2 separate regions of the Homo sapiens genome follow, and region 1 is linked to region 2. The links come from fine-mapping of genetic effects on plasma protein levels. A gene starts in region 2. The other region holds a variant in brackets. All regions are shown on one strand. Distances are between the middles of the regions. Region 1 has its middle 120 kb from the start of BCHE. Region 2 holds the start of BCHE (butyrylcholinesterase).

What was found. PIP is the posterior inclusion probability: the model's chance that the variant is causal. The UK Biobank Pharma Proteomics Project read protein levels with antibody pairs (Olink). The fine-mapping took linkage between variants from a reference panel, not from the people measured, so its PIPs are less certain.
Region 1: its variant is fine-mapped to the plasma level of the BCHE protein (UK Biobank, PIP above 0.99).

Annotation. Positions count from the first base shown.
Region 1 is chr3:165,709,823-165,726,835 of GRCh38, reverse strand. No RefSeq gene overlaps it. Among named protein-coding and RNA genes, the nearest start is that of BCHE, 120 kb to the left of the region's middle. RefSeq lists enhancers at 5,107-5,607, 5,608-6,108, 13,000-13,499. The variant G/C (reference allele first, on the strand shown) is at 7,977.
Region 2 is chr3:165,833,364-165,850,376 of GRCh38, reverse strand. It overlaps BCHE (butyrylcholinesterase), which reads left to right and starts at 12,954. Exons shown (of 4, transcript NM_000055.4): 1 at 12,954-13,063. RefSeq lists an enhancer at 12,842-13,136.

The sequences.
Region 1 (17,013 bases), 120 kb after region 2:
TTAACATTTAAGTGTTGTCTCAGAACAAAACTACAATAATTATAAGCATTAATTTAGATAGTGTATTACTTTTCTATTTCTATAAACAAGTTACTATGAATTTAGCAGCTTTAAGCAGCAGCCATTTATTAACTCACAGTTTTGGTAAGTGAGAAGGCTGCCATGGCATGGATGAGTTCCCTGCCCAGTGTCTCACAAGGCCAAAATAAAATTTTAGGGAAAAGAGGCAGAAATATTCTTGTATTAAATGTTAATCATTTAATAATGGCTTTCTTTCTGTTTTCTAGGCTCTTCCCTTCTGGAAATCTTGGTAGATTATATTGGATTTCCTGGGTCAATGCTTTAAATGTTCTAAGTTTCTGTTTTCCATCTCTTTTTGTTGTTGTTGATTTGCCATTTTCCAGAAGCTTTGCTCAAATTATTTTTCAAGTCTTACATTGAATTTTATATTTCTGCCATAATAATTTAAGCTCCTAAAATCTCATTCTTGTTCTCTAAATACCCATTTTTTCTGATAGTCTAATCCTTGCTTTTGCATGCCATGTTTTGACTTTCTTTGACAGTATAAATAAAACTTTTGAAATTTTTATATCTCATTCATTGTCTATATCTTTCATATTTAAGTGTTTTTCATGTATGTTTTGAGATTTAATTGAAGGCCAATGAAAAATTTTATTTTCCAGGTTTAACTAGAATCTGAAAATACTACCAGTAGCTATAGTCAAATGGCATGTTGACAATATCTTCTAAAACTAAAACCCAAGTTTAAGGTGTTCTACTTCTCCAATGCATCTACTGTCTCTTAATTTTGCAGTAATGTTTTTATCAATGCGATTTTAAGGGTGAATTCTAAATTTTGAAGATAAATGACTTTTACAGTGTGATTTTCTAAATTGTGCTTCTGATCCTTACATTTTATATAAAGAAAGCATATTCCACAGGTTTATCGCCTTGATTAACAAAGAAGCTAATTAAAAAAAAAACATTAAATCAAAGCTCATGAGAATATTCATAGAAAAATGTTTGCTCTATCGTGATAATAAATAAATTACCTCAAATCTTCACCCTTGCCTTGGCCATATAATACTTATCATGTCTTTCCTTGTCCCTTGACTTTGGACTTGAACATGTGATTGTTCTGGTGAATTCAATGCAGATGGAAGTAACAGTGTGCTTATGGCTTAATAAAACTCATATGTTTCTTTTATTCTTTCTTATCTTCCTACCATCATCTTGAGAAGCGATTCTGGGTTCTCCAGAGAAACAGAAACTAAAGAGTCTCTCGCTCTCTCTCTCTCTCTCTCTCTCCCTGTCCCTCTCTCTCTCTCTCTCTCTCTCTCTCTGTGTGTGTGTGTGTGTGTGTGTGTGCATGTGTGGAGAGAGAGAGAGAGATGAATAGAGAAACAGAAAAAGAGAAAGACAAAGTGAGAAATAGAGATTTATTATAAGGAATTGGCTTACATGGTTATGGAGGGTGAGAATTCCCAAGATCTGCAGTTGGCAAGCTGGAGATCCAGGAGAGTTGATCATGTCTTTCCAGTCTGAAAGCCAGCAGGCCCGAGACCAAAGAAGAATCAATGTTTCCATTTTAGTTCAATGGTAGAAAAAGACAATTGTCAGCTCAAGGCGGGCAGGCAAGAGGAGTTCCCTCTTACTTGTGAGAGAATCAGCCTTCATGTTCTAATCAGGCCTTCAACTAATTGGATGAGACCCACACATGTTAAGGAGGGTACTCCACTGTAATTGGTTTATGCATTTAAATGTTAGTGTTCTCCAAAAATACCCTCACAGACACACTCACAATGTTTGACCAAATAGTTGTGCATCCCATGGCCCAGAAGTGGTTGACACATAAAATTAACCATCATGACTAGATAGCTACTACCTCCCCAGAATGACCTAAAGTAGACCCGTTCCAGTTAAGCCCAACCAGACCCACAACTTGAAGCAGAACCACTATCCAAGCATAGCCTGTATAAGTAGACTCTCTGGGAATCCACAGATTTCATGTGAATAAATAATTTGTTTGCTAAGATAATGAGTTTTGGGTGGTTGATGATGTAACAATGATAGACTATATAACTAATCCTTACCTACTAGGTAACTGAACAACCATTGTTATGAGACAACCACATACAGTCATAGTAATATATTTCATTTAAAGGTCACTACTCTTATCTAAATATGCTTCCTTATTTTGAGCCTTCACCAGATTTGCTATATTAGAATCTATAAATGCATAGTTTTAGGTGGGATACTAATCTGAGTGTAAATGTCAGTGTATATCCCACAGGTGACTGCAAGTAGTGTCTTAAAATGGTAAACAAAGTAAACTACTAAAGGAATTATTTTTTTCATTTTGCATGGGACATGTCTGTGTAAGCATTTATCCTCTGTACTTGGGGTTTTTAATATAATTTCCTCCTTAATTTATGTTAACTTAACCAATTTTCTGTTCTCATACTTGTCATCACTTAATGTCTTTCCAATAAGTGTGTTATGACATCCACTTTCTAGTCTTGAGGAATCCTGATCTGTCACAAGTGCACTTCTAAAAATATCATTTTCAACTTCTCTAATTTCTACTGCACTAACTCTGAAGTCTAAGGATATGTATTCTTTGTGTTTCCAACACAGAACATTCATTTTCTTGAAGAACATATGATGTTATTTGAATGCTACTTGGAGATTTTTTCATAAATTGAAACAAATTTTCTCTTGAATGCATTACACCTCATCTCCACCAAAGACAGTTCAAATTCTTAAAAATAAAGTCAAATCTAGAGACCATTACGTCAAATGTTGAAACCAGATTAGACAGCTAGATACGAATGCCGTGCCCACTAATATGGAGCCACATGATACTCGAGAAATGCCTTATATCTATTTGTTTCTTTGACTTAATGCCAAGCATACAGGTTTCTTGTGATGATTAAATGAGACAATATATGTGGCAGATAATTTAGATTTGGTAAGTTATGTACCATGATATGTATTCTTTCTATTTGAATTATAGAACACCCTGTTCGTATGTTGAGAGGCTACTCAGTGTCAGCTTACTTGTGCTCTCACAAGAGAAGTGTTTAGTACTAAAAATGTCAAGTGAGCCTTCACCAGATTTGCTGTATTAGAAACTATAAATGCATTGTTTTAGGTGGGATACTAATCTGAGTGTAAATGTCAGTGTATATCCCACAGGTGACTGCAAGCAGTGTCTTAAAATGATAACCTAAATAAACTACTAAAGGAATTATTTTTTCATTTTAACTTTTAATAAGAATTACAATAAAAATGAGAATAAATTGCAGTGTGAGGAGACTATAGTGTGTACATATATAAATATCCTAAATAAATGATTCTGACAAGTAGATGATCATTTTTAAGTTTATAATTATTAGAACTCTAGTCCAATTGAGAAATGGCTGGTAATAGTACAGTATTAAAATTTTCTAATCTCCCCAAAAAGATCTACAAAATAAATATCTATTATAAATGATTTTAGTAGTTTATTCTGCTAAGTGCTAGGGATAAAAAGTTTTATATATAATAATTGTATTGTACATAATAAAAACAGCATTATGGAGAAATCACTGTTCCTGGCAGTTTGCTACCCACTTTACATAACAATTAATTTAAAATTCACACGTTTGTTAAGACAGCTATTGTTGTTATCGCCATTTTACAAGCAGAAAATATAGTGCTAAGAATTTGTCACTTGTGTAAAGTCATAAAGCTAGATAAAGACAGAACCAGTGTAAAATAATAGATGCAGCCTATTTACATTCATAGCCAAATCTTAGACCTTAACATTGCCCTACTATCTTTCACAGTTGAAACACAGACCAAGTATTCCACATTCAGATAAAAAAATCCTGATTTTTTTAGCGGTCTCAACCGTTCATATTTCTTTTACACTTCCAAATTCATGCTATTGCACCAGAAAATAGAAAACTCTATACCACTATGCTTCTTGCTACATAAATCCAACATTCCCAAATATTACTTTGTGAAATGCTTGCCACCATCCTTCAACTTATCTCCGGTAAAACCCCTCCTTGTTAAGAAATAGGCATTTATCATCTATTCCAAGCTACTACCAATTTCCTGTTGTCTCTTACTTGAGTACTACTACCACTTTCACCCCAGGAGTAAGAAATGTTTCATAATTCAAGGAATATCACTTTTACCATACATATCCAAAATGAAACTCCTACACGCTTCAAGCAATCCTGATTCTTTTTAATTGGTACTTAGCTCTAAATAACATTAGCTTATATCCACTTTCTCAAAATAGAATACTATATATCATTTTTAACACATCATATTCTCTCATCTTCCATATCCATCAGCAAATTCTTGTGATACTACCTTTTACAGATCTCTAGGATCCACCCTCTTTAATTCCACATTCTCCTCCCTAGAGCAAGCAATGTCAATCATCTATGGGGGCAACGGCAGGGCACATCTACTAACTTGTCCCTCTTTATCAACTCTTGTCCATTTCTACCATGGCAATTGGTTAAAAAAGATTCTAATTAGCCCAAGATCCTTACTTAAAATGCTTAAGTTTTTAATAAAAGAATTTAATAAAATCCGGCATTATTCTATATTACTATTAGTTTATGTGTTCTACCACACTGGTCTTCTTTCAGTCACACAAGTTAACTTCAGCCTTTACCACTGGACCTTTTAAATGTTCCTTCCTCTGTCTTAGATTCATTTTCTCTTCATTTATCTGTTTATTTTCTATTTCTTTGTATCAAAGTTTAATTTCTTCAGGAAATCTTCCCTGATCCTAGTATGTCTTTCCCTTATCTCATGGCACTGTGAGACTTATTTTCACAGATCTTACTCTGCTGTAATGTTATGTTTGTGATTATTTTATTCATGTCTGCCTCAACCGTTAAAGAGCTGTAAGTTCCACAAAAACAGAGATAGTTTTATATATTGAGTCTTGAAAACAGAAAGTTCTTAAAAGAATATTTGCTGATTATTGGATTGACTGATATTGGTGGTAGAAGGTCCTTTATTCCACTCAGATTTCTTCTTTCTACATCCATCTTCTGGGATTATAGCATATTACTTCTTTAATAATTTTGCTTTTGGTTTGAGATTTTTTTTGAAAAACACCACCTTCAGTCCTTAGTAACCTGTAAGTACTTCCTTCACTTAACTCTTTATCAGCAATATCTGTATATGCAGCATACAGCACAGCTTCATTTGTTAGATGTCAATAATATTTTGTTGACCAAATGAATCAATTAATGCATGAAAGTGAAGTTAATGGTAAGTAAAATCACGGAAGTCTTACATGGTGAATATAATTTACTGGGAGGAGCCTACATTGAGGATTTATCCAAAAGTGTAATTGACTGGCAGCAGCAGCCCACCTGGATCAACTGCTGCAAAGATGCCGGCTGCAGCAGGGGAGGCACAGCTGGCAGCATGCTCCATGGATCTGGCAGGAGTCAGAAACAGGTGGAATCTCTGCTCCCTTCCTAGTTGGTGGGGCAGGAGCCCTTCCCTCCCGGGTGCAGCTGCAGCTGCCCAGTTGCCCTGGTGGACCTGGACATCCTTGGGCTCTTGAAGACTGTGAAGCCCCCTTCACTCACGGGCTTGGAAGTGCCTGCTCCCCACGCCTGGCCTCTCCCCACCCCCAGTGCCTACTCTGATTTTGGAGCCAAGTTGAGGCCAAGCGTGGGTGCTGTTGCAACCTGGCAAGGTGTGCTTGCACTTGGGGCAGTGCTGAAATGCCAGCCCCCTCCCACCTCAGCCCCCTCTGGACTTTGATCACCAATGAACATGGGAGGAAGGCCAAGGGGGCCCTGAGGGAAGCTCAGTGTAGGCCTGAATGCACCCCTCAGCACAAACAGCCTGGGTGCCTGGACAACATGATTAATGATGACAGGAGGCAGACAAGAAAAGGGGCAGGTCCCCGGTAAAGCCAGACCTTCAAGCCAGGGATGGCTTGAAATCTGGGGTCCAGGCTGTCAGTTCCAGGTGGAGTCCATGGCTCAGAGTGAGAACTTACGGTGCTTTTTCCAGGCTTGCCCATGGCCACCCATGGACTAATCAGCATGCACTTCCTCCCTTCTGAAGCCCATAAAAACCCTGGAATCAGCTACACTCACAGAGACGTTAGGACTACCAGCTGTGGGAAGGAGCTATCAACTGCAGCAGGTCTTCTCTCTGCTGAGAACTGGACACTCGTTAGGATGACCTGCCTAAGGAAAGGAGCTACTCACTACAAGTCTCCTCTCTGCTGAGAACTGGACACTTATCTGGACGACCTGCCTATGGAAAGGAGTCAGCTACTTCAGGTATCCTAAGAGCTGTTCTGTTGCTCAATGAAGCTCCTCTACTGCCTTGCTTCCCCTCCAGTTGTTCACAGACCTCATTCTTCCTGGACACGGGACAAGAATTTGGGACTTGCTGAATAGCAGGACTGAAAGAGTTGTAACACAAACGGGGCTGAAACATGCCCCACCTCACCATGTTACAGGTGTCAAGAAGGAGAGAAGAACTGCAGCTTTTGGGGATCCTAGACCTAGGGTCTTCCCTAGCCAGGGCTGCAACACCCTCTTTGAGGCTCTGTGGTTCCTGGCATTTCCAAGCTTCTGGGTACCACTGTGTTTCCCGGTGCTAGAAGTGGAAGCCAATTGTGGTACTCGTGGTCCAGCCACAGCCTTGCATGGAGCAGGGGCCTGGAGCTGCCTGCCCTGCTACAGCCAGCATGCCTGGCTGTGTGCAGTGACCAGACCCCACCCTTGCTCACACATCCCTAACTGCTTCACTCCTGGCTCACCCTTGGCAGGCAAGGGATCCGGTCCGGTAGCGTAAACTGAGTGCAGCCTACTGGGCCAAGTGGGTGGAACAAGCCCAGAGGGCCTGAGCAACACTCAAGCAGAAGGCACCACTGGCTACCAAGGTTTCTTGTTGGCAAAGTGACACCCCAAGGATCCCCTGACATTTTTGGAGGTGCTTTTCTGGGATCTTCAGGAGAGTGAGTAAAAGAGGACTTGCTGCTTTCCATCCTTTTTTTTTTTTTTTGGAGTCAATAAACTACACACTAGCCAGAATGAAAGAAAAACATGGGCCTCTGTTCAGCCAACTAAAAGCAACAAGTGTGGTTGCTGGACTTAAGACACAGAGGACAGGCTTGCTGGGGGTACACTGTCAATCACTTGTCACTCTTGGGTCTTGGGAATGTTGGCCTTTTGCCAATCCGGTTTCCCTTCACAAAAATTTAGCTGTCACTTGAGACTGGAAGGAGGTCCTGGGGCAACTGCAGATATCTGACTGAGGCTACACCTTAGTGTTATCCAAAGGCCCCTGGACTAACTCCCATCCCCAACTGCCCATTAGGGTGTCAGCACTAGGGCCCTCAGTCTTTCCTATCACACTTTTTGTCTCATTCTCTCTTTCTTTCTCTCTCTCTTTCTTTCTCTCCCTTCCTTCCTTCCTTCCTGCCTGCCTTTCTTTCTTTCCTTTCCTTTCCTTTCTTTCTTCTCTGACTATAATGGCTACTATTCTCTTTTTTATATACAATGTTAAGGGTACCTCAGAGAAAATATTACTGGCTAGAATAAGCACTTGGAAGCCCGCCATGGTGGCTCACACCTGTAATCTCAGAACTTTGGGAGGCCGAGGTGGGCAGATCACCTGAGGTTAGGAGTTCGAGACCAGTCTGGCCAACATGGTGAAACCCCATGTCTACTAAAAATACAAAAAATGAGCAGGGAATGGTGGCAGGCACCTGCAGTCCCAGCTATTTGGGAGGCTGATGCACAAGAATCGCTTGAACCTGGGAGGTGGAGGTTGCAGTGAGCCAAGATAGCACAACTGCACTCCAGCCTGGGCAATAGAGTGAGACTCCATCTCAAAAAAAAAAAAAAAAAAAAGAAAACAAAAAAGACAGAAAGAAAAAAGAAAAAATAATAAGCGCTTGGCTTAGTGATCAGGAATGTAAATCAGAA[G/C]AATGTAATGTGGTATCTGTCTATTGTTAGAAGCAAGGAGAATGTAACAACTGAGACTTTTCTTTCCCCTGTTGAAGGAAGCCATTTCCATAGGGAAAGAGGCTTTCCCCTGGGCACCTTCCCCTTCCCTGCACTTCAGTTTTTTCTTTTTTATTTTTTTTTTCTTTTTCCTCCACCATGTAAGCAGTCAACATAGTGCATTGGGGGAGCTTTTCTACGCAAGAGATTTTTTTTTTTTTCCTTTTGAGAGACATCTTATTAGGCCCAGTCCTAAATTCCCAGGACTCCCTTTCTTTCCTTGGTTTGAAGGGGACCTCGTTTCACAGTTTTACTTTAGCATTCTGCTTATGATAGGGAAGAAATGAAAGAGTGGCCTCGGCTGCCCCACCAATTACTGGCTGCAATTTGGTAAGGGCTACCTGGGACTTAATTTAATGAGTCCGTACAAAGGGAAAGCTAAACCTGAGGTATCCAGAGGCAGATGAAAGTGCAAGTCAGGAGGCACAGTGCAGGTGAGCATGACTAATTCCTACCATTAGGGCCTTCCACTTCTGGATGGAGGTCATGTTGCATCCATGGCATAGATAAGGTCTAGGGAACTCAAAGGTGACTGACAATGGGAGAATAGGGCAGCATAAAGGTAAGTGCAAATATTCTTATCCACTAGGCCTCCCTGCTACATGGGTGAAAGTGGCATGTGCAAAGGTTGCCGGGACTTAGGGATATAATGTCAAAATAAAGAAGGTGATGTCTTTTTTTTCTCTCCCTCATGTACCCTGTGTATTGGCTTGAAAGAGAAAGGAACAAATGGAAACCATTTCCCCCCTCTTTCCAGATGGGTAATCAACCATTTCAGCCTGCACTCTTTTCGAGTGCTTCCTGAATCCCTGGGACCCCCTTGACCCTCAGACTCTGGAGAGAGGAAAGAATGCCTTTTCCCCCTCTGTCCTCTCTTCCAGAAGGGGAACCAATCATCTTTAGCCTGCACTCTTCTCAAGTGCATCCCGAATCTCTGGAACTCCTTTGACCCTCAGACTCTGGAAAAAGAAAAAAAAAAAGGTTTTTTCTTCCTTTTTTCCTCTTCTGTCTTCTCTTTGAGGATGGGTAATTGCATCTCTACACCACAGGACACTCCCCTCAGATGCATTCCCCAAACTGAGAAGATATTACAAATCTAACTGAGCAATCTCTTGAAGAGGGACAACTTTTACAGTAAGGCTTATCAGTTTTACCTGTGAGGTTAATTTTGTTAAGGCTCAAAAGCCAGCCATATTGGCCATTTGGCATGGCTAAGGCTGGTTAATAAGACATTTAAGAGGACTTTTTAAAAAAGGATTTCTGGCCGGGTGCGGTGGCTCACGCCTATAATTCCAGCACTTTGGGAGGACAAGGTGGGTGGATCACGACGTCAGTTCAAGAGCAGCCTGGCCAAGATGGTGAAACCCCATCTTTACTAAAAATACAAAAATTAGTTGAGCATGGTGGTGGGTGCTTGTAATCTTAGCTACTCAGGAGGCTGAGGCAGAGAACTGCTTAAACTTGGAAGGCGGAGGTTGTAATGAGCTGAGATCATGCCACTGCACTACAGCCTGGGCAACAGAAAAGGACTCCATCTCAAATAAATAAATAAAAAGGATTTATATGGTTAAAAGTCAGCTTAACTAAAAGTGGATATCCAAGCTACAGGCATATCAGGCATATATAAAAGACCTTTATGTCTTTTCTCTCAATGGATCTAGTTTTTCTGGAAAAAGGATTTTTTTTTCCTTTTTAGCCAACTTAATTATTTTTCTCCATTTCATCTTGCCACTCCTAATGCACACATAAGAGGCCCTAAGACAACTTTTGATGGTTTGGAACTCCTTGGGAAGAACAGAAGAGATGCCACTGACCCCATTTTTGTAAAAAAAGAAAAACAAAAACAAAAACAAACAAACAAACAAAAACCTGTTTTTCTCATGGAACCCCAGGAATTAGAGGCAGATAGATCTCAAAATCTGTTTTTGTCTTCCAACTATGCCTGCTTATTAGGCCCTAGATACTGCATGGTTTCATAGCCCTGTTTCTTAAAGGGCTCCACCCTGAGGCCAGTAAATAAAATTAGATGGGCAAATGAAAATCTAACAACTACTGGATCTTCTTTCTCTGTAGTTATGTATGTGTTCTATGTGTGGTGCTTATATAAAAAAAAAGAGCTTTAATTGACTGGTTTAAGGAAAAAATAAGCATTTGCATAAAATATTTTTAAAGAAAAATAAAGCTGTAATGCCTTTTTGTTCACATGACTTTAATCTTTGAGAAATAAAAACAGCTTTAAAGATTATTGGTAAAATAAAAATGTCTTCAAAGTGTAGACATATGGGCTAGTTGCAGTGGCTCACTCCTGTAATGCCAGCACTTTGGGAGGCCGAGGCGGGCAGATCACGAGGTCAGGAGACTGAGACCATCCTGGCTAACACGGTGAAACCCCGTCTCTACTAATATGCAAAAAAAAAAAAAAAAAAAAAAAAAAAAGTAGCCGGGCGTGGTTGTGGGTGCCTGTAGTCCCAGCTACTTAGGAGGCTGAAGCAGGAGAATGGTGTGAACCTGGGAGGTGGAGCTTGCAGTGAGCCAAGATCATGCCACTGCACTCCAGCCTGGGCAACAGAGTGAGACTCTGCCTCAAAAAAAAAAAAAAAAAAAAAGTAGACATATGGTCTACATTATGCAGGTCAGATACTAGGGTTGCTAAAGGCTTTAAGGTCATGAAATGCTTCTTCGGCTTTTGAAAATTGTTTGACTTGCCTTCTTTTCAGCTTGGTAAGGCCTGGGGACATATGAAGTTAACCACACCCCGACTATGTTGGAAAGAGTTAGGCCTTATCTGCACCTAGTACATAATTAAAATAACTTATCATGTTTTACACCAAAATTTAAAAAATTGCTAAGAGTTACCATTTAACATGTATTGAGACTACTGAAAATAGATTTACATGCAAGGTGTTTAAGGTAAGTAAAATGTGTTTTTAATAAAAGATTATAGGAAGACATGTAAATTTTTTCTTACTGTAGAGGGTTAAATAATTATTTTTAATTAAGATAAAGCTAAAGGTTTAAATGAGTTGGGAAGGTTTGTAAAACTTAATATTGTAAAATAAAATCTGTGTGTGAACATACTGACTAAATTCAAAAGGGTATTATTCGATTTTTCCATAAATTGAGCATTGGAATAAAAGCACAAGTGTTTCTTAAGGCACTGATATACTCTTTAACAAAAATTAGTTAAGAGTTATAAAAGGTTTGTAAGAATCTCACCTCATGGTCAAACTGATTAAAATTGGATAGATTTTTCTATAAGTTTTCATTAAAAAATTGGGATTGACATTAAAAGACAAATAAAGGGTGAAATTTGTCTATCTCTCTTGAACAAGATTTTCATGTAATGTTAAGGATATTGAAAAATTTTAGTTTGTTTTGTGAATAAACTACTGAAAAAAGAAGGAAAAGACAAGAGACAGATCGTTTGGAAAGCTGAGTCTGCCCTAGTAATGAGTAAAGGTTTTTGCTTTTCCAAAAAAATGTTGAAGCGGCTGGGCACGGTGGCTCACGCCTGTAATCCCAGCTTTGGGAGGCCTAGGTGGGCGGATCACAAGGTCAGAAGATCAAGACCATCCTGGCTAACACGGTGAAACCCTGTCTCTACTAAAAAATACAAAAAATTAACCGGGCGTAGTGGCAGGTGCCTGTAGTCCCAGCTACTTGGGAAGCTGAAGCACGAGAATGGCGTGAACCTGGGAGGCGGAGCTTGCAGTGAGACGGATCGCGCAACTGCATTCCAGCCTGGGCCACAGAGCAAGACTCCGTCTCAAAAAAAAAAAAAAAAAAAAAAAATGTTGAATCATCATTTTGGCTAAATAAATTACTTATGGTAATCTGGAATTCTTTTTATAATATCAAGTGTTTTAAACCTTTAATGTATTTGATAGGCTTCCCCAAATCAAATTTCAGCTTCATAATTATCTTTTCTGACCCCTAATTTTGGGATGCTACAGAGGGCCCCTGGAGCATTCAAACAAGAGGTAAATAGGATTATTTGACATGTTTAGTTACATGGGATTTTCCAAATAAAAATAAGGTTTAATCTTGTTTAAGTTATATTTTAGTAAACGATAATGTATGTTCCAAAATTGTATGGGATTTCTAAAATTCAAATGTCTGAGTATATGCTAGCAATCATAAATAGCATTATTATGTTAAGTTACCGTAAGCCACAGAAATAACCAAATTTCCTTGTCAATTGTGTTTTTGACTGTGAACTAACCTAAGACATTTTGTCATCCACAGGCAATTGTTGTCTTGTATTTATTCTCTTCAAAGGATAGTTTATAATCAGTTATAGGACTTGGATAGGTTCTCATTGGTTGTTTTGAAGTTTTTCTCTGCATTTTAGATTAACCCTGCTTATTCCTGTGAACTAGCCAACTATCTCTGACTGCAGCTCAGACCAAAAAAAAGGGATAGGTAAAGTAAAAATCTGGATGAACATTCTAATTCTGGGCAATTATCCTGTAAATCCTGCCAAGAGATGGGGGGTAAATGGGGTGCCGATAACCCAAAGGTTTCTTTTTCGGGAAAGTAAACTCAAGGGATTATCTACCCCCCTAAACAGTTATTTCTCTTTTAAACTTTAACTGCCCCCATACAAGATTTAATTTCTTTTACCAGGGTGAAACAGCTCTAGCCACAATATTGTTTTCTGAATGATTAGTCTATTTTACTTCTTATTTCTGTTATCTTTGGCACTAGATTTTTTCCTTCGCATAATTAACCTCCTTGTAAAATTTGTTTCTTCTTGCCTAGAGGCCATCAGACACCAAGTGGTCATGCAACTGGAGCCTCAGATGATGGCTCCCTTTTACCAAGGACCCTTGGATAGGCCTCTGAGAAAGATCTGACTGCGTTTTCCCCAAAACAGTGCCTCCTAGCAGCATGAAGCCGTTAAGCGTGGTCATCATCCCTATCCTAATGGCAGTTTCCTGTACCTCTTCAGAGGGAGGATTGATGGCAGCGCAGCCCACCTGCAGTGGCTGCTGCGAAGACACCATCTGCATTGGGGAAGCAATTGCTGGGGTTGCACACTCCATGGAGCCGGCAAGAGCTGGGAACAGGAGGGGGCCCTGTCCCCTTCTGAGCTGGCAGGGCTGGAGACCCCAGACCCCCACCCAGGTGTGGCTGCAGCCACCCAGCTGTGGCTGTGGATCCATGCATCCCTGCACTCTCAGAGGCCTGGGAATCCAGCTGCCCCCGCAGGCTCAGAAGTTCCTACTCCCACTGCCTGGCCTCTCCTCACTTTCGGTGCCCGATCCAATTTCAGACCAAAGTTGAGGCCCCTCCTGGATGATGTCACAACCCGGACAGGTGTGCATGCACTTGAGGCAGTGCTGGCACACCAGCCCCCTGCTGCCTCAGCCCCATCCGGACTTTCGGTGTGGAGCACAGGAGAGAGGCTGAGTAGGAGCTGAGGCTGACTCAGCACAGGCCTGTAGGCACCTCCTCAACAGCATGGACAACATGATTGATGGCAGCTGGAGGCAGACAGGTTCCTTTGTGAAAAAGAGTGGATCTCCTGTTAAGCCTAACCTTCAAGCCAGGTAAAGAATAGGGCCTGGGCTGTCAGTTCCCTGTGGAGTCAGCAGCCTGGAGTGATAATTTATGGTGACTTATATGGGCCCACCCATGGCTGTCGATGGACCAATCAGCATGCACTTCCTTCCTTCTGAAGCCCATAAAAACCCTGGATTCAACCAGACTCACAGAGATGTCAAGACTACCAGCTTTAGGAAGGAGCTGCCCAGTGTGGTTCTCCTCTCCACTGATAGTTGAACACTCGTCGGGATGACCTGCTTGTGGAAAGGAGCTACCCACTTCACATCTCCTGAGTGCTATTCTGTTGCTCAATGAAGCTCCTCTTTGCTTTGCTCACCCTCCAGTTGTCCATGTACCTCATTCTTCCTGGATGCAGGAAAAGAACTTGGGACCTGCCAAAGAGCAGGGCTGAAAGAGAAAGAGCTGTAACACAAACAGGGCTGAAACACACCTCCTGCTCACCACATTGCAGGTACAAGAAGGAAGAAGCTAGTTGCAGCCCTCTGGGGAGTCCAGACTTAGGGTTCCTTGAGCCAGGGCTGCAACACCATCCTTGGGGCTCTGCAGTTCCTGATATCGCTAAGTTTTGAGGCACCGCCGCATTCTCTGGTGCCCACAGTAGAAGCTGCTTATGGTATGCCTGGTCCAGCTGTAGCGTCTGATGGAACCAGCACCTGTTCCGGCTCTGGGAGCTGCCCACCCTGCTGCAGCTGGCACTCCTGACTGTACACAGTGGCGGGACCCCCGTGCTTGCTCTGTGCCAGGCTTGTCCTTGGCAGGCATGAAATCCAGGCCGATAGTGTGAACTGAGTGCAGCCTGCTGGGCTGAGTGGTAGGATCCAGCCCAGTGGTCCAAGCAGTACTCAGGCAGAAGGCACCAACACCACAGAGGTTTTGGCTGGCAAGGCAACATCCTAAGGATCCTGTGTCATAGGTACATGAAAAAGGTGGGCAGGAAATTTTCATAATATCTTTGACTTCAAAGGTATAACCTCTGTATATCTTTCAAATTACAAATGGGAACCATTCAAAAGTGTTTTACTAAGGGAAATAATTTGATTTTAATCAGTAAATTTGATTAAGAAAAAAGGTTGAATACAAGGAAGACTGAGTGCTATGCCTTCATTTATAACACATTGTTGAGTAAAAGTAGAATCAGGATGAGGAAAGTCATCCTACCACTGTCCAGAGACACAGGAGGTAGGAATAAATTAAAATGAGGCAGTGGGGGCAGGGAGGTTGGGTTATTCAAGCTTGTAGTAAATATTTACTGAGAGTTGACTCTTAACAGGTCATCTCAGATGAGGCCATGTGTTATTTGGAAGTAAGAAGGGCCTTAACTAAGAAACTGAAGAACTAAAATTTAAGAAAAATAAATAGTGATAGTGCTTGAGTCCTTGACAATAAAAGTGGACCAAATATGCAAGAAAAAGTTCAAATGCATGAGAGAAAAGCAAAACATGCTCAAATTAACTTCTCCCCAATTAAACATAAACTAATAGATAATATCAGATATGACATTTAAAACATTTTAAAAAGCAAAACAACATAGACATTGAACTAAAATAATAGATACAGGCCAGTCTATCCATCAGGAGAATATCCACTCTTTATCAGTTCTGGATACAAGATTCTTCTCAATAGATGCCAATTTATATTTAATTATTCAGAAATGCTTGGAATAACTTCAGAGACTATTCTTTGAAAAATAAAATTATTAACATTCAGTGTCTTCTTGATCTAGCCCATGATTCTATTTTTTTCTTCAGCTAGTTGTTTAGTCACCTATTTAGATTTTGAATTTTCAGCAGTTTTTAATAATGCTGACTTTTCATAGCTTTTGCTGCAATTTAAATTACAATTTCCACCAATATTTCTTTTCAGCATTATAATGTGCTTAGTGATATTAAGAAGTATAATTGCTCTTTGGCTGAAAATGCATGGTCCAATAAACATGAAGATGATTTTCTTCTGCCTTCTCAAAAAATAGCTTCTGAACTGGAGCTAACAAATATACCATAGATTTTTAAGAAATACGTTTATATATAACAAAATTATAAGTGTGTATGTGTGTGTATGCATTGATGTCTTTCCAATATGACATATGGTATGTCTTATTTTTTTTTTATTTGCAGACCCAGATTGAGGAATTACATAGATATCTCCATCTCTTTTTTTGCCTTCCCTTCAAAAGAACAAAGCCTTCTGAAATGACTTACTCATGCCACAGATATAATTTTTTTGGAAAAAAATTAAGCTTTTGGATGAAATAGTTGGGTAAAATTATCAAAATGTGAACTCAACTAAATAAAAATTTTAAATTTCTGCTACCTACCGACTCCCCAGATATGTACTATAAAGATATACCTATCCTTCAGGCTTCCAGTCATTCAATAGATATTTCTTGAGCATTTACCGTAAGCCATGTGTTGCTTCAAACATTAGTGACAAACAAAACAGACAAGGTTTCTACCCTGATGTTTACCCATATTGTAGTAAAAGGAAGGCAGTAAACAAACCAATGTATATTTGACTTATGAGAAAATGATAATTATTATGGGTATAAAAGAAAGCTGGATAAGAGCAATATGCTAGCCTGTCTCTAGAATGGCATTGGATGATCTTTGTTTTCTGTTATTCACACTTGTATATGCCATCCCTGACAATACTAGTTTAATACATTCTGTAACAATATTTGAATACAATTTATAGTAAATTGTTACCAATAGAATGCAATAAAAAACAATGGTATATCACTTCTAAGATTAAGTTATAAAAATACTCCAGCTTCTGTCTATGTATATCCTCTCTCTAGGATGACTTGCTCTAGTGAAAGCCAGCTGCCATTACAAATGTACGCTATGGAAGCCTGCAGAGAGGCTCATGTGACAAGAAACTTAAGTCTTCTGCCAACAGCCACTGAGAAACGTAATCCTGCCAATGATCACGTGAGTGAGCTTGGAAGCACATCTACTCCCATTTGGATTTTCAGATAAGACTGCAGTCCCAGTTCATGGTTTGTCTATAAATTCATGAGAGATGTTGTCCCCAACCACCCAGCTAGGTGACTCCTATATTCCTGACCCCAACCACCCAGCTAGGTGACTCCTATATTCCTGACCCCAACCATCCAGCTAGGTGACTCCTATATTCCTGACCCACAGAAACTATGAGCTAATAACTGTTATTCAAGATGCCAGATTTGGGGGTAATTTCTTATACAGTAACAGATAACTAATATGTAGAATACAAAGGGAAATCTTGGGACAGATAATTTTTGCTTGGTTTTATTTTTGTTCTTTGAGATAGCATATTGCACTCTTGCTCAGGCCAGAGTGCAGTGACAAAATCATAGCTCACTGCAACTCTGGACTCCTGGGCTCAAGTGATACTTCCACCTCAGCTTCCCAAG
Region 2 (17,013 bases):
AGACACTTTTCCTTAATTAATGAAATTAACTGATGGAACTTTTAAAAGTACTACACAATGGTAAATATTAATAGTTTTCTATACTATGCAAATTTGGCCTCTTCCTTACTAACAAAATACAAATTCTGTTCAGGGTTGCAATACAGCAGACTAAAAACACCTTCACTTTTTAGTTTCCTTTCATGGCCATGTACCTCCAGATTCCTTATGTAAGAAAAATAAAACCCATGCTGTCTCAAGCTAATGAGTTGGTTTTCTGTTGCTTTTGTATAAGCCAGATTCTAATGGATGGATATATTATTAGGTTTTTTTTTTTTTTAAAAAAATGACATTTCATCTGGAAAAATAAAAAGGCCCAAAGTCAAGAAACAACAGATGTTGGCGAAATTGCAGAGAAAAAGGAATACTTACACTGTTGGTGGAAGTTTAAATTAGTTCAACCATTGTGGAAGACAGTGTGGTGATTCCTCAAAGATCTAGAGGCAGAAATACCATTCGACCCACCAATCCCATTACTGTGTTTATACCCAAAAGAATATGAATTATTCTATTATAAAGATACATGCATGTGTATGTTCATTGCAACACTATTCACAGTAGCAAAGACATAGAATCAACCCAAATGCCCATCAATAATAGACTGGATAAAGAAAATGTGGTATATATATACCATGGAGCACTATGCAGCCATAAAAAGGAATGAGATCACATCATTTGTAGGGACATAAATGGAACTGGACACCATTATTCTTAGCAAACTAATGCAGGAACAGAAAATCAAATTGCATGGTCTCACTTATAAGTGGGAGCTGAGCAATGAGAACACATGAACATGAACACATTGTGGGGGAACAACACACACTGGGGCCTTTTGCGGGAGCAGGGGAAGGGGGAGCATCTGGAAGAATAGTTAATGGGTGCTGGGCTTAATACCTAGGTGATGAGTTGATCTGTGCCGCAAACCACTATGGCACACGTTTACCTATGTAACAAACATGGACATACTGCGCACGTACCCTGGAAATTAAAGGCTGAAGGAAAAAAGTTCATATTATTTGGTTACAAAAAAATAAAAGAAAACCTCAACATAAAACATGAAGATCCAAATATAGTGTGATATATAAAAAAGAAAATATACAGTAATAGAACACAAAATGGAGTCAACAAATTCATATTTTATAGCATGAAAGTATATAAAGAAGGGAGAATAATGATTAAATTAAGCATATAAAGGTATTTATACCTTTTAGTAACTTTAGTAATTTATAATTATTAAATTCTCTATTTCAAACTAGAGAGGGAAAATAATCACATACTATTATTTAAAAAAAAAAACTATAATAGAAGAAAAATACTTTAAGATTTAACTGAAATGGAATGGAATAATTTTTCAGAATATATAAATCATATAAATGAACGTTCAAAGAGAATTTTTAAATAATAAGTATACAATTATTAGAAAAAGATAATATCAAATGTGGTTGGGAGTATACAATATGGGGATTTATTCATTCAATAATTATTTAATGAACACCAGAGTTGCACTGTTAGGGCTGAGCACTAGTGGATTATGAACTGGACATGGTCCTTCTTCTCATTTTAAAATCCATAACTATGGGGAAAAAGACAAAACTAATAATGAACATACAAATAAACTTAAAATTCAAAATTTTCTAAGGGCTACGGTGAGGAGTCAAGAGTCAACAGGTTCAATAAATAGTATAGATATATTACAAATGTATTACCTCTCCATATATAGCAACTATCCAAATATTATATTCATCCAAGCAAATGCATATACCTTGGTAAACAAAATAAAAATTAGTATGTACTTAAAATGTATTAAAAACACATCATGCCATTCCACATGTCGATGTTTTCTCTCAACGTTTTGGTATTGATGTTTATTCTTTTTTTTTTGAGACCGAGTCTCGCTCTGTCGCCCAGGTTGGAGTGCAGTGGCGTGATCTCGGCTCACTGCAAGCTCCGCCTCCGGGGTTCACGCCATTCTCCTGCCTCAGCCTCCGGAGTAGCTGGGACTACAGGCGCCCGCCACCACGCCCGGCTAATTTTTTTGTATTTTTAGTAGAGACAGGGTTTCACCATGTTAGCCAGGATGGTCTCGATCTCCTGACCTCATGATCCGCCCGCCTCGGTCTCCCAAAGTGCTGGGATTACAGGCGTGAGCCACCAAGCCCGGCCTATCTTTATTCTTGATTATTACATGCTATTCTACTCTAGGACCATAAAAATTTGTCTAGTCATAATCTGGTCCTTCCTAGTATCTTTATATTATTAAAAAATTATAAAAATCTAGACTTTTTGCATGACTTTTGTGTATAGGTGCATGAGTTTCATTAGTGTATATGCCTAGAATTTTGATTTTAGGGTTGATATATTCAATAATATTTTTAAAAATTTATACCAACATAAAATTCAGTAACATGTTTTCACATTCCTAGTTCCCTTCTGGGCTAATACTGAGCAATAGCAGACATACAATTTGGACAACTTCTGTTTGTGTGAATTGGCATCTAATTGTTTTTTAATTTTCATATCATCAGTGATTAGAAAAATTGAGATTTTTTCATGTTGATTGGCCACTAGGCTTTCCATTTCGTGAATTGCTTGTTCAGATCTTTTTATCATTTTTTTCTTTGAGTTGTCTTCTTATTTTTAATTTCTAGTTCTTTCTATATTCTGAGTATAGTTCTTTATTGGTTATATGCATCTTTCTGTCTTTGTGTATTTTTTAACTTTTTAAGCTTTTCTTGGTAATTTTAGAATTTTAATTATTCCAATTAAATGTTTCTCTATAATGGCCTTTTGTGTCTTATTTAGAAAAATTGCCTTTACCTGAATTCCACTGAGGTAGTCTCATGGTTTTCTTAATTTTAACATTTTGTTTTTCATACATAGGTCTCAAATTCATGCAGAAATATTTTTGTGTATGGTTTATAGTTAAAGTAGAAATTTAATCAAAATGCTTTCTATATGATGAACACTTGTTTCATTTCACTTATTACATAGGTCATGTTCTAATATCCCTCTAATATACCATATAATATATCCTTATATACAACTGAGGATACAGAATCTCTATTCTCTTCTACAAGGTTATCACTATCCAAATGCAATATATCCAAATGCTATGTAATTTTAATCATCAAAGTGCATTATTAAATATATCTAATGAGACAAATTAATTTCTATTTACTTTTCTTCTCTAAAACTATATTGGCTATTTTGAGCTCATTACTTTTCATAACTTTTCAAGTGAGTTTTCAAGTTCGTTAAAAATTTTGAAGGGAATTTATTTGGAATTGTGTAACAAATAGAGACTGAACATCTTACAGGACTGAGATTTCCCATGTGTGAACAAGACATAGTTTTCTATTTGGGGTAGAAGAGGTCATCTGTTGATGTATTTAATAAAAACGTAAAATATTTATCATACAGAGCTTATATTTTGTTATAATTATTCCCAGATTTTTGATAGGAATATTTCAAAGAACTCGGTTCTGCTTTTGCTGCTCCCATTGTCGTTCCCCCCATCTTCTATTTTATTAATTTCTGTTCTCATTACTACAATTTCTAATGTTATATTGTCTCTTGGTTTTCTTTATCATTCTTTTCTTTAGCTCTTGCATGGGATTCTTCACTGTTTACAATTTTGTTTCTATTCCAACAAGCATTTACATCTATCAATTTTCTTTTAATAATAATATCTATTCAGTTGCAAGTTACAATGGGTTTATATGTAGTGCTTTTGTTATACATTATTTTGTAATATCAATTTGATTCTTCTTTTTAAATCCAGAAATAGTTTATAAATGGTTTTCAATATGTATACTTCTGTGTTTTACAAAGTTGTGAAAATCATAAAATATCTATAGGATAAGAGATGGAGTAGGTGATAAATGGAACTTTTGGCAATCTCATAACAAGATTTCTGTGCATTACTCCATGTGATTTTTTTCCCCAAAACTTAATTAAATAGGCAAGACAGAAATGCATATTCTCGCTTGAGATCTCGTATTAGTCACGGTTCTCCAGAGAAAGAGGACTAATAGGATATATAGAGATGGAGAAGATGTGATTTGTTATGGAAACTGGTTTTCACGGTTATGGAGGCTAATTCCCACAATATGCTATCTGCATGCTAGACAGCCAGGAAAGCTGTTGGTGTAATTCAGTCCAAATCTGAAGGCCAGAGATCCAGAAGAACTGATCAGTGTTGGAATTTCCAGTCCAAGGTCGAAGGCTCGACAATTGAGTGGGGATGACATATGTCCAAGAATCAAGAACTAGGAGCAGAAGGTGAGCAGAGGATGGGCAGAAGATGGATGTCCCAGCTCAAGAAGAGAGAGCAAATTCATTCTTTCTCTCCCTTCTTGTTCTCTAGGTGAGGCCTCAAGGGATTAGATGACACTTGCCCATACTGGTGAGAGCTACTCAGTCTACTGATTCAAATGCTGATCTCTTCTGGACAGACCAAGAAAAAAAAAGTTTTCCCAGTTATTAGGGCATTCATTTACTCAGTTAAGTTGACACAATCATCACAGAGCTTTTCATGCCTTTTCTGTGACTACTGATTTAAATTTACAAAGTTAATGTAGACATAGTTTTAACAATTTGTCCATAAAAATCAGTTAGATATGGTTGTCTATTTGCAGAAGAATACTTTGTGAGGCCTGCAAATAAGTTGTCCCTTCCAGTTATGTTTCTGGGGATTTGTAACACTAATCTATATGTTTTATGTCACGTTGATCATTTAAACGGAGCCAAAAATCTGACTTCAGAACAATGATGATACAGAAAAGGGCTAAAGTACCATTAATTGGGTTTAAGGAGGAAGTCAGAAATAAAACAATTACTTGGAGGCAGTAAATTATACTGTTGTTTTTTCATGGCCAGCAAAATAAGCTTCTATGTATTTAGAAATACACCCTGAGTAAATCTCTTTTTTATGGTAAAATCATGCTGTGAATATAATCACCAAATATGAGCAGACTGAAAAACAATGTTAAGATACAGGTTGTACTAAGACATATCAAGATTAATTATTATTTGCCTAATTATATTTAGTAATTGCAGTCATATACTAGCAATACAGTGTTTAGCTAAATATCAGATTATTTGGCATTACATTGGTGATCCAGTTCCAAAACAAAGGTGAATCTCAGCACTTCACAATTTCTGCATTGTAGCTTTTGACTCCCCCCAAGAAATAAGATGTAAATTTTGGCATTTACAAAGCTATTCTGAAGTAATAAAATACAGTTACAAAAAAAAAAAAAAACAGAAAGATATCTGGGAATATTGCAAAGATGATAAAGGGAAAAAAGACTGAAGACAAACACTGAGGTAGAGAAAAAAGTCTGAGAAGACAGCACCAGATGACCCTGGTTTTGAAGGTGAGACCCCGCTGTGGAGGGTGCCACTGGATGCTCTTCTTTAACTCTCATCTCAGAAATGACTACATGGCTCCAAAATGTGATCTTATGATAATCAAATTTATTTTATAAGAAGTTTATTTTTACTTGAACATATTATATGCAAATTAGGAAACTTTTCAAATTACAGAAATGAAGAAATCATATAAAGTAGTACAATTTTCTACCTCAGAAACATAATAGCATAACAATTTTATTTTCTTAATTAACATATTTAATATTCAGCCACTTTATTAAATGAGACTGTACCATTTTTTCCCTTGAAGCCCAACTCTGGATACTTTTGTATCCACTGTCTCTGTAGTACATGTACACACACACACACACACACACACAGATACACAGAAACACACAAAAACTCACATACACATCTGCTCCAGAACTTTTAAAAAACAGTGTTGGTTTCTCCTAACAAGTTTGAAGATTCTCAGGAGAGATTTACACTTCACCACAAATATCATTCTAGAAGTCTTTATTATGCTTCTACCTCCCCAAAACTTCTACTCTTTAGAGTGGTTTCCCAAATTGCTCCTTTTTCTTTAATTTGTTATCTTTAGTCTTCTTCTCAATTTGTTTACTCCATTTCCCCTTAAAATCTCATTGCCTCAGTTTCTTCAAACTCCAACTTCTCTTTTCTTTTTATTCTATTTTTTGTTTGTTTGTTTTTGAGACGGAGTCTCGCTCTGTCGTCCAGGCAGGAGTGCAGTGGTGCGATCTCGGCTCACTGCAAGCTTCGCCTTCCAGGTCCACGTCATTCTCCTGCCTCAGCCTCCAGAGCAGCTGGGACTACAGGCACCCGCCACCATGCCCGGCTAATTTTTTGTATTTTTAGTAGAGACGGGGTTTCACTGTGTTAGCCAGGATGGTCTCGATCTCCTGACCTCGTAATCTGCCCGCCTCGGCCTCCCAAAGTGCTGGCTTTTTATTATTCTTAACTTGCTTTGACATGAAGTTTATATCATTTCAATAATGAAAATTTGGCAGCTCCTTCTCTTCCTGATTTTCTTAAATATAAGGCAAAATAAAAATAAATTGTTTCCATAATTTTGTATAAATATCTCTGCCAAATCGTCTCAGCATAAAGTCATTTAATTTCTATTCTTCCAAATCTGTGTGTGTGTGTGTGCGTGTGTCTGTCTGTCTGTCTGTCTGTATACACGCATACCACAATGGGATTATATTTTTCATAATGTTCTGCAGGCCACTTCTTCAAGAATTTTCACCTCAGTAAATTTTTTCTAAGCTAGTACCACCAAATTATTTAAATTTCCAAAATTTATCCCCCAAAAAACCCATTTCTGGTCATGAACCACATACTACATGTGATTATGTCTCTTGCATTTTGCCCAGGCTTTCATAGAACTTTACTTTCATTGTTTTGTTGAAATGACCAAGCCAGAATGTTCCACTTTCAGGAATTGGCTGGGTGCTCCATTGAGATACAATTTGTTTCTTTCATTTATTTTCTTTATTTCATATAAATATAAAGTTGAATTCATATCTTCAATGTGATAATAAAAGACTCAAATTAAAATTTTTAGATAGACTTGGTGATATTGTTTACCTAACATTTTATTGATTCTGCTATTTGTGACATTAAAATTTACCCTTTGCTTTAGTTATAAAATTTGGATTGAAATATGTGTGGTTTCTCAAGAATATCACCTATCCAGTTTTCCTTCAATCATACATCTAGTGATCTTAACACCAATTGTTAATTCTTAACTGAATGAGTATATTCATCAAGGTATGAAAATTTTTTTCTGCTGTGTTATTCCTTCTACATATATTAGTTGTCTTTCTTCTTTAAATTAGAGTTGTTCCATAATAACAGGGCTTTTCCTCACAAATAGTCTTGTATTCTATTACCAGATTGTTGATTGAATTCACTTATTATATTTACAGCCAGAGAAAAGGGAATGTTCGTAGATCTTACCAGAGTGTTAAGGGATAAAGGACATTGGTACTACAAATAACTGAAATAATTCAGAAAAAATAATTTGTAAATGCACATATTTTATCTCATGTATAAAGGAAGACATAACTGAAAATGGCTTAAAATATTAACACATGGTGAATCTGAGTAAATATTATATAGAAGTTGTCTGCACTAATTTGAAAATTTCCATAAATTTAAAATTGTACAGAAATAAAAAGTTACTTTTAAACACCTGAAATATGGGTGGTAACAGTTATAAGCAAATAAACTAAAAATAGTACATTTTTATCAAATGAAATGACAAAAGATATGTAATAATAAATTGCGTTTTTGAGCATGAGAACAACATACACTTTCCTAGACAGCTGGTGAGAGTATAAATTGCTGATGTTTTGTGAAGGTAGTTGGTTGATATGTCTTAGCCATAAAAGCATAGATAACCTTTTGAAGAATTCTGATTTAAGCAATTATTCCATAGAAAATAAGAAATATTTAAAAATATTTATAATTACTAAGTCCATTTTTATGTTACTATTTCCAGGAAAAATTTAAAATAGCCTTCATATACAATAAAAGCAAGTTAGATAAATTATATTGTACTTATACAAATAATTAATACATAGGCATATAAATGAAGTTAAAAAAATATTCGATAGCATTATTTTGGAAAAACTTAAGATAGGTTATATGAAAGTAGGCTACCAAAGACTATGTATGATGTATTTCCAAATTAGCTTGAAGCAAAAGGTACAGTTGTGCATGAGAATAAGCAATTAAAAAAAAGAAAAAGCATATATATATATATGGTAGCACAAAAATGTCCTTAGTATCCAAGCTCCAGGACTTTGCCTCTTAGTGTGTAGTTTGTGAACTCCCTCTATCAGCTTCACAGAGGACAGTAGTATAACGCTGTCCTCAAGTCTACTGAAACCAAAGCCCAGGGATGTGGCCTAGAAATCTGGATGTTTAAATAGCACTTTGATGAATTTGATAATGTGTTACTTTGCAATTTTTCTGAGAGTGAGACTCCAAAGATAGTCAAGGGTTTGGGAAGAGTAAATTTAAGCCAATTCAGTAAATTAGGTGATAAACAAAGAAGCTTGCTGTTTTTCTCTCTTTTTTTATGTTTTAAAACAATGAGTTTCTCCTTTTTTGCTCAAGCCCTGAACAATTTAGTTCAGAATTTGTTTTCTTACTTTGATTCTGCTGGCTTTGCCAATTCCATGAAAATCCACTTGGCACCACATTTCCTTAGAAGCTCTTGCTTTTTCTTGATTTTCTTTCTGTTCTTAGAGTCTAATATTCTAGTGTCTCACCAAATTGTTGTTGTCTCTTTCCAAAACTCCTTTAACCAAACTATCTGTATCTTCATGTAAAAGGCACCACAGACCTCCCATCACTCACTCTCCCTTAACCCCAAAATATCTATGTGTTATCCCTTACAGATGTCACTTCCTGCAAGGCCTTCCATATTAGTTGCTACAACATCACTAAAGAATTTTATTACCTGTGGCTCTGGACCTACTTCTAATATCTCTGGAGATATCCACCTTCAAACACCTGCCACATCCAGCTATGAGGGTCTAGTACCTGGGCTCCAGAGACATGTTCAGGTTAGTTCTGATTATAAGAACATTTCTCTTTTTTGCCAGAATTGTTGGAAAGTTATCTCTATTCAACAGTCTGTGTAGGATTTCAGAAGATTGAATATACATATAAATATATATACATACACACATGTATATATACACACACACATATATGTATATGTACTTTGTCCATGTCGTATTTGGTTATTCCAATTCTGGGAAAATAAATTAAGAAAATAATTAAAAGATGCACTCAAATATCGATATACAAAATGCCTATTGTAATAATACATAAAAAAAGTCAGAAGCTAACCTCGGTATCTGTATGATTTGGAGCAAGTTACTTAAACTCTTTGTGGCTATATTTTCTCAAATGTAAAATAAGGTTAATAATAGTGCTTATTTTAAAGGTAGTCATGAGTTTTAAATGAATTCATGTATTCAAAGTGGATAGAATAGTGCTTTCAAATAATATTTATTACCTAAAATTATTATTATCATCATATAAGTAACAAGAGATACAATGAACCATAATATGCCCATATGATAATATATCACACAGTAATCAAAATATTTTAATAGGAAATTAATATCATAAGATAAAAAGCAAGAAGAATGATGATAAGCCATTTGACTACCACTATATTTATCTATGTAACTATAACCACATACACATATTTTAAAAAATTGATTGGAATATACAAAATGGTCTTTTCATTCTCTGTGATATGTAAAATGTAGAAATATACTTTTCTGGGCTGGATGCAGTAGCTCACACCTATAATCCCAGCACTTTGGGAGGCCGAGGTTGGTGGAGCACCTGAGGTCAGGAATTCGAGACCAGCCTGGCCAACATAGTGAAATCCTGTGTCTACTAAAAATACAAAAATTAGCCAGATTTGGTGGTGGGTGCCTGTAATCCCAGCTACTCAGGAGGCTGAGGCAGGAAAATTGCTTGAACCCAGGAGGCAGAGGTTGCAGTGAGCCGAGATCCTGCCACTGCACTCCAGCCTGGGCGACAGAGTGAGACTCCATCTCAGGAAAAAAAAAAAAAAATCTATCTATCTATCTATCTATCTATCTATCTATCTATCTATCTATCTATCTATACTTATATATACTTTTCTTTGTTATCCATATTCATTTCAGAGAATGCAGTGCTATTGTAAAAAAAATGAATAAAATTAATATAAGTTTAGAGCACTTTTTTGGCATCAGTATGCCTAAGGAAAACTAATGTATAATACAGGATTAATGTTTTTCACACCATCTCAAATCTTACTGAATGCTGCTATCTAGAAAACAGTGGTAACTGAGTTACAATGGGACCTTAAAAGCAAAAAACCACTGTGACTGGCTAACTGAAAGTGATCATAGAGCCAAAACCATAATGATTGTCCTGCCCAAGCTTCAGCATATATGGTTGCAAAATGTGCGCAGTGTTAATGCCGTGTCAAGTGTCTTGTGGTATTTCATCAGTGTCGCTTACAAGGCATACTCAACATTTAACAGCAGGATCATTAACCATCCATGCTGTGATGTAATGGAATAGTGCTTCCCTACTAACCCTGAAACAAGCTCACTGTGTGTGACCTACATCCTTCCGCTGGATGAGTGTGAGAAAATGATGACACCACAGAAGCAAAGCAGCTGCTGTAAGTTGAGCCACAAGGAAGAAACTCTCAAGACAGGAAGAATAAATGCTTTAGAGGTGCACTAAAATAATGAATGAACTAATGTGGCATAGCTGTGAAATCATGCGAGGAAAAGAACTACAGGGACAGTAACAGAAGGTGGTTCTTTGAAGTAAAGACATTGAGAAGAAGAAAAATTGCCAACTTGTGTAATCAGTTGATGTTGCTAGTTAGCCAGTTTAAACATGCGTTAAAGATAAAGATCTGCTTGAAACCAATTATTTTATTGTTTGGCTTCCTGTTTAAAGATGAAAATGAAATATGTGTATATATGTGACATATTTTACCTAGCAGTGAGTAGATGCAGGAAGCATGTAAAATGCTTTGCTGAATTCACTAACGTCACAAAATATTCCTTAATAATTGCCGCGTTTGATAGGCTGACCTTATGCTAGCACAGGAAACAATGCAGTGGACTTGGGTTGGAGAGAAGAATTTTGACATTTGGATTTTTAAAAATCATGTATATTGAACCCATGAACTCTCATGTGGAACATCAGATTTACTATATTTTAAACAGAAATGCCATCACTATAAAAACCATTGCAAATTTGTCAATATACTTCCATTTAAAAAGCCTTTTCCTGCTTTTATTGATTTATTGATTAATTTTTTTTTGAGACAGGATCTCACTCTGTCACCCACGATGAAGTGCAGTGGCACAATCGTGGCTTGCAGCCTCGACCTCCTAGGCTCAGGTGATACTCTTACCTCAGCTACCTCCCAAGTAACTGGGAATGTAGGCTTGCACCACCATGTCTGACCCATTTTCTTGCAGAAATTGAGTTTTGCTATGTTGTCCAGACTTGTCTTGAACTCCCAGACTGAAGCAATCCGCCCACTTAGGCCTCCTAAAATGTTGGGATTACAGTCATGAACCACTGTGCTCCACCTCCTTTTTCTCCTTTTCAGATAGATTATGTATTCTGTACCTTTTGTGTAACTAACTTGTTATTACATAAACTATATTCTAAATACATTATAAATTATTGTGATCATGATATTTATCATTGAATTAACACTGCCTAAGTAGCAATTTTCACAGAAAAGATAATTTTAAAAGACCAAAATGGTTATTCTCTTGGAAGCAGTTGACATAAAATAACAGAATAATACAGATTAAAATTCTGTTTTCCAACAGCTACTAGTGGTAAGAAATATAGTAAGCTTCTGATTTGTAGAAACCTTAGCTTTCTCATCTGATGAGGTGGTTAATAATATTAACTCTCATATTTGCTGAAATAATATAAAATATTTAATATAAATTGTCAATTATAATGACTGGCATAAGGTAGAATTACAACAAATGCTAATTATATTTGCTTGTTTGAAAATTTAACACTCTATTAAAAGGCAAAAAAGTGCTCACCTGCAAATATTAATACATGCCTTCTGTTTAGTCCATAGAAAGCCCACAAGTAAGAGATTCAAAAGTGAAAGCTATCACTTACAGAAGATTAAGAATATATTGCATTGAGAAGATAGGGATTAAGGAGTTTATCAAAGGTTTTTTAAAAAATTATTTTCCTGAACATCATTTCAAGAAAGATAAGCGCCAAAGACATAAATATATTCTCCAGAGCATGTGCACTGCAAGTTGACAAATGTGTCTCTTTTATAGAGTTTGGTGAAGGTTATTCATTTTATTTTTCCTGTCTTGACCAGAAAATTGTGGCTTCTCATCATGTATGACTGCCTGCAGGGTCTTCTGAATAGGAAATTACCAATGCTGAAATTTGTATGACTTAAATAAGTGTTGAAGTGTGGGGGTTGAAAGGAGATACATATCAGAGACATCCATTCAGTTAATAGAACTAAGTTTTTGATTTGCATAGCTTATATCTAGAGCATTGTGTTTCTTATTTTCTATATTACTATCTTCTCTAACTATATAATTAGCACAGATTGAAGCTATAATGGATTTCAATAATAGCACTACTTTAGAATGATGTATACGTCTTTAAATCTTAAGACAAGCATAGGAAATATGTATATTCTTAAAAAAAGGAAAATTTTTTTAAAGTTTAGAGTTAAAAGAAACATGCATTTTCTGTTACATTTCAGATTATTTTAGTTAAAGAATCTTCTATGCTTTTTTTCTTCATTCTTAGAAGACTACCTGCAATTGTAAAGCATGAATCCTGTAATACTTCTGTAAATGAATCACTATTGCATTTATACCATTAGCCTCTGAACAGATTTCAAGTTGCTGCTGCCAACTCTCGCGAGCTTTGTCAGTAACAGTTGATTGTTACATTCAGTAACACTGAATGTCAGTGCAGTCCAATTTACAGGCTGGAGCAGCAGCTGCATCCTGCATTTCCCCGAAGTATTACATGATTTTCACTCCTTGCAAACTTTGCCATCTTTGTTGCAGAGAATCGGGTAAGTTGCTCTGAATTTACACCTTCGTGTAGAGATCCAAGTTACTGTAAAGCTCATTCTGTGGGATGAGAGTGATCTCTTCATGTGTTTGTTGTGTCCCTTTGGTGCTCTGTGGGGAACAGTTACTGAAGCTTGCAAATGGGACAGAGGAAGTGAGCCAGCAGGCACATGCATCAAATCTTCCTATTATTCAGGGAACGCAGACTTTGTTTATTTAACTGCTGAGAAAATAATGAATTTATTCAACTCTGTATAAAGGACCATAGCACGTGTGGAATCACTGTGATATATATTCTTAGTGAGTTTCCTAAGAAAAAACATTTCATACTGGCTTACCCTTAAATGCATTGTTTATTGAATCTCTCTGTAAAAGTAATCTTTGATTAGTCTTCCTTTTTTTTTCTTTTTAAATGGGATAAAGTTAGTAGTTAACTTACTTTTTCCTGAACAAAATACTTTTCTCAATCAACATTTTGTCACCTAAAACTTTAACAGTAACAACTGGCAAATGAGAGGTCTGTTTATTTTATGTAAATAAAAACAAAACCTGTTTTCTAATTTGATTTACAGTGATTTATGAGCGTGTCCCCTTTGCCCTTTGTGTTCACTTTTTATATGTTTGTTTAAATTGTAGCAAAATATTTTACATTTGCTATTATTTTACTATTATAGAAATAGTAAGCAAATGTACTTTCTGCTCATCCTATAATCTTGTAAAACTATTATTTTGATAACATCAGTTCCACTTTAACCAGGGAATTAAATATTAAGGATTATAAAATCTATGAATGACTAAAAGTAAACTGAAATGTGATTTCATTGTTTATGATTTCTATTTATTATATATTTTTATTTTATGAGTATGTCTTCTACATTTTTATGAATATATTTCATGATAATAAACTCAATTAGGAGCTCCTGTCACTAGTCTGTGTAATGCCTTCCTTAATATAAACTATCTCATAGTTACAATAAATACAATGACAGTTTACTTATATAAGTAGTTACTTTGTTTAAGGATAAGCGTGAGCTTTTAAAGTGTGACTTTAACATTTGAATAAAAATCTTCAGAATTTTCTCTGGATATAAAATAAAGTAGTCTTTTGGATGCCAAATAAATTTCTAATTGGGTTATCAAAGTTCTGTTTTGTTCTCCTAATTTTTTGTTGTTGTTGTTTGTTTGTATTGTCCTAGTTTTTTAATTGTAAAAATATGTTTGGGATGTATTCCATATTTCATTTTTATAAAACATAAGCTACTAATAGCTAAACAAGTCACATCTTATCTATAAATTTGGTTCCTTCTTCGAGTCATTTCTTGATAAGTATAATATATATTTACATTGAATATTATCTTCATTTCGATGGTTTCTTGCCAGCATCTGCTCATTCTTACCAAAATTAGACGGTCCCAGATGTTAAGAGAATTGTAATTGAATAGATAGCAACCTAAGAGGAGATTTAATTTTCAGAGAAGACTCAAGAAATCTCTCTAATAAATGTTCAAATTATTCACACAATGAAGTTTGCAAATGTTCTTCCTAATTGAGGACAGATAAAACATCTTAAGTTTCTTATATCTAATGTAGTGTCTTCTATATGTATACATGCCTAAAGCATAGCTGAAGAATCCCTGAAAGACAGTGATGTAGTCTATTTATAATCAGACTTCCTCAATTCCCCACTTCACTTAGTCTGCAACAAAACAAGCTTTTTAAGTTTGATATAAAGACGTCGTTGTTCCAATTTCTTCAAATACATTTAAGAGAGCTTGTTCTAGATCATATTAATATTATCTAGATGGCTCTTTCTCTACCATTTTAAGAGGGTTTATTTCCAAGTAGAAATAAATATTTATTTAATTGTAACTTTTTAAAAGATAGGGAAATTATACACAGGGAAAATATTTTGAATATTTGCTTGAACATCTTTTAAAAATTCTTGGCTTGTCCCTTATTTTGAAAATCTGGTTGATATTCAAGTATCCCAAAAAATAGCTCTTTATACAAATTATTTTATCACACTCACATCTTATAGTATAACATTTAGTATTTTTTGTTAAAATCAGCTAGGGAATATTAATAGTACTTTCAAAATTGAATTAAAAATACAAAAAAAGATTTGTCACCTTTTTTATTTGAAAGTTATTGTTATAACAGTTTAGCATTTTCAAAAATTGCCAGTAAATTTTCTTAATTCCAAACAAAAACTCAGTTCCTCAAAAACTCAAATTCCTCAAAAACTCAATTCCTCAAAAACTAGAATGGTCTGAATTCCAAACAAAAACTCCTGTCTTTATTTCCAATATTAAATACTATTTTGATAAGCAAATTGATCTAAATTCAGATACACAGCTGTATTTGTGAAAATGTGCCCCATTTTTATGATAATGTTTATGCTACTATGTTCTCTCAGAATCATGTGAGACAGTATCCAATTGCACCAGAATTTATTAAAAGAAAAACGATCAAACCTGCACGTTGTGCACATGTACCCTAAAACTTAAAGTATAATAATAATAAAATTAAAAAAAAGAAAAACGATAATGTTTTGTTGAATATCCTAATCATTAATAAAAATTTTGAGATATAGACTCAATATTTTTATTCTATTTTCATTTATTTCTCTTTCGATTGCTCAATTACATGATAAACATATCAAAATTTTTAAAGTCTTTTAATGGCAAAACTACAGAGTAGCATGTTAGAATAGATAATACCAGATTATAAAAAGGGCAAAGTGATGCTTATTTAAAAAATAAAGTACTGCAATTAAATATAAAAACATTAGCCTACAATACACTAACAGTATATGAACATCTGCATATTTTTATATTAAAGTACACATTAAATAATATGTCATATGACACTCTGCAACAATACATATGAGTTAGCATTATATTGTCATTTTTGCAATGAATGCATGCTTACAAGAATTGCTTTGATTGTTACCAATTACATTATTTGCAAGTTGATAACTCAGATATCATTATCGAAAAATTAAAGATTTTAATTCATACCATATTATTATATAACAAGACCTACTCAGCATAAAATATAAATATCAACATATAATAAATTTTGTATTAAATCAAGTTAAGTGACATGGGAAGATATTACAACCATTTAGATGTTATAGCAACTGTTTAACATAAACAATGAAACATCACATTTCATAATTACACAAAACACAAATACAGTTTTGTAGCAACTATAGTACTTGCTTTGCAATAATATAAACTGTTTGTAGAACAAGTTTGAAAACTATCAGAGACCAAAATTTATTTCAATTTGGTGTTTGGTTTCTAAAGACAAACTAATATTCAAATAAAATCAAGGAAAAAATAGATGGCTTTTGCATTAGACTTAGAAGAACATTGACTGAGCTAGGCAAGAGGGAGAATGGGTACAACCAGGGATGATGCAATTAATTTATTAAATTGCAGCTTAGAACGAACCGCCCAATCAGCTTTGCACCTTATTCACTTTTTCTTCCCAGAGGATGTTTTCAAAACAGAAAATAAAAAAAATCATACTAGCACTTTGTTTTTCTCCAGATGCTCTCCTGCATTTATTAAAGAGAAAAGGATTAGCGGTTATCAGAAAGAAAAAAGAACTGAAGCAGTAGAGTGCCTCTAAAACTTTGATTATGTCTGAAATGTTATTAGTGTCAGGTAACAGGAAACTTTAAGTCATTGTTATATTTTACTTATTTATTTACTGTGATTTATGATACAGTCATACAATACATAATGATGCTTCAATCAATAATGGTGGTCTTATACAATTATAATATAGTATTTTCACTGTACCTTTTCTCTGTTTACATACACATACAGTTACCATTTTCTAACAATTGCCTACAGTATTCAGGAACATGTTATACAGATTTGTAGCCTAGATGCAACAGCCTATACCATATAGCCTAAAGGTGTGGTAGGCTATGGCATCT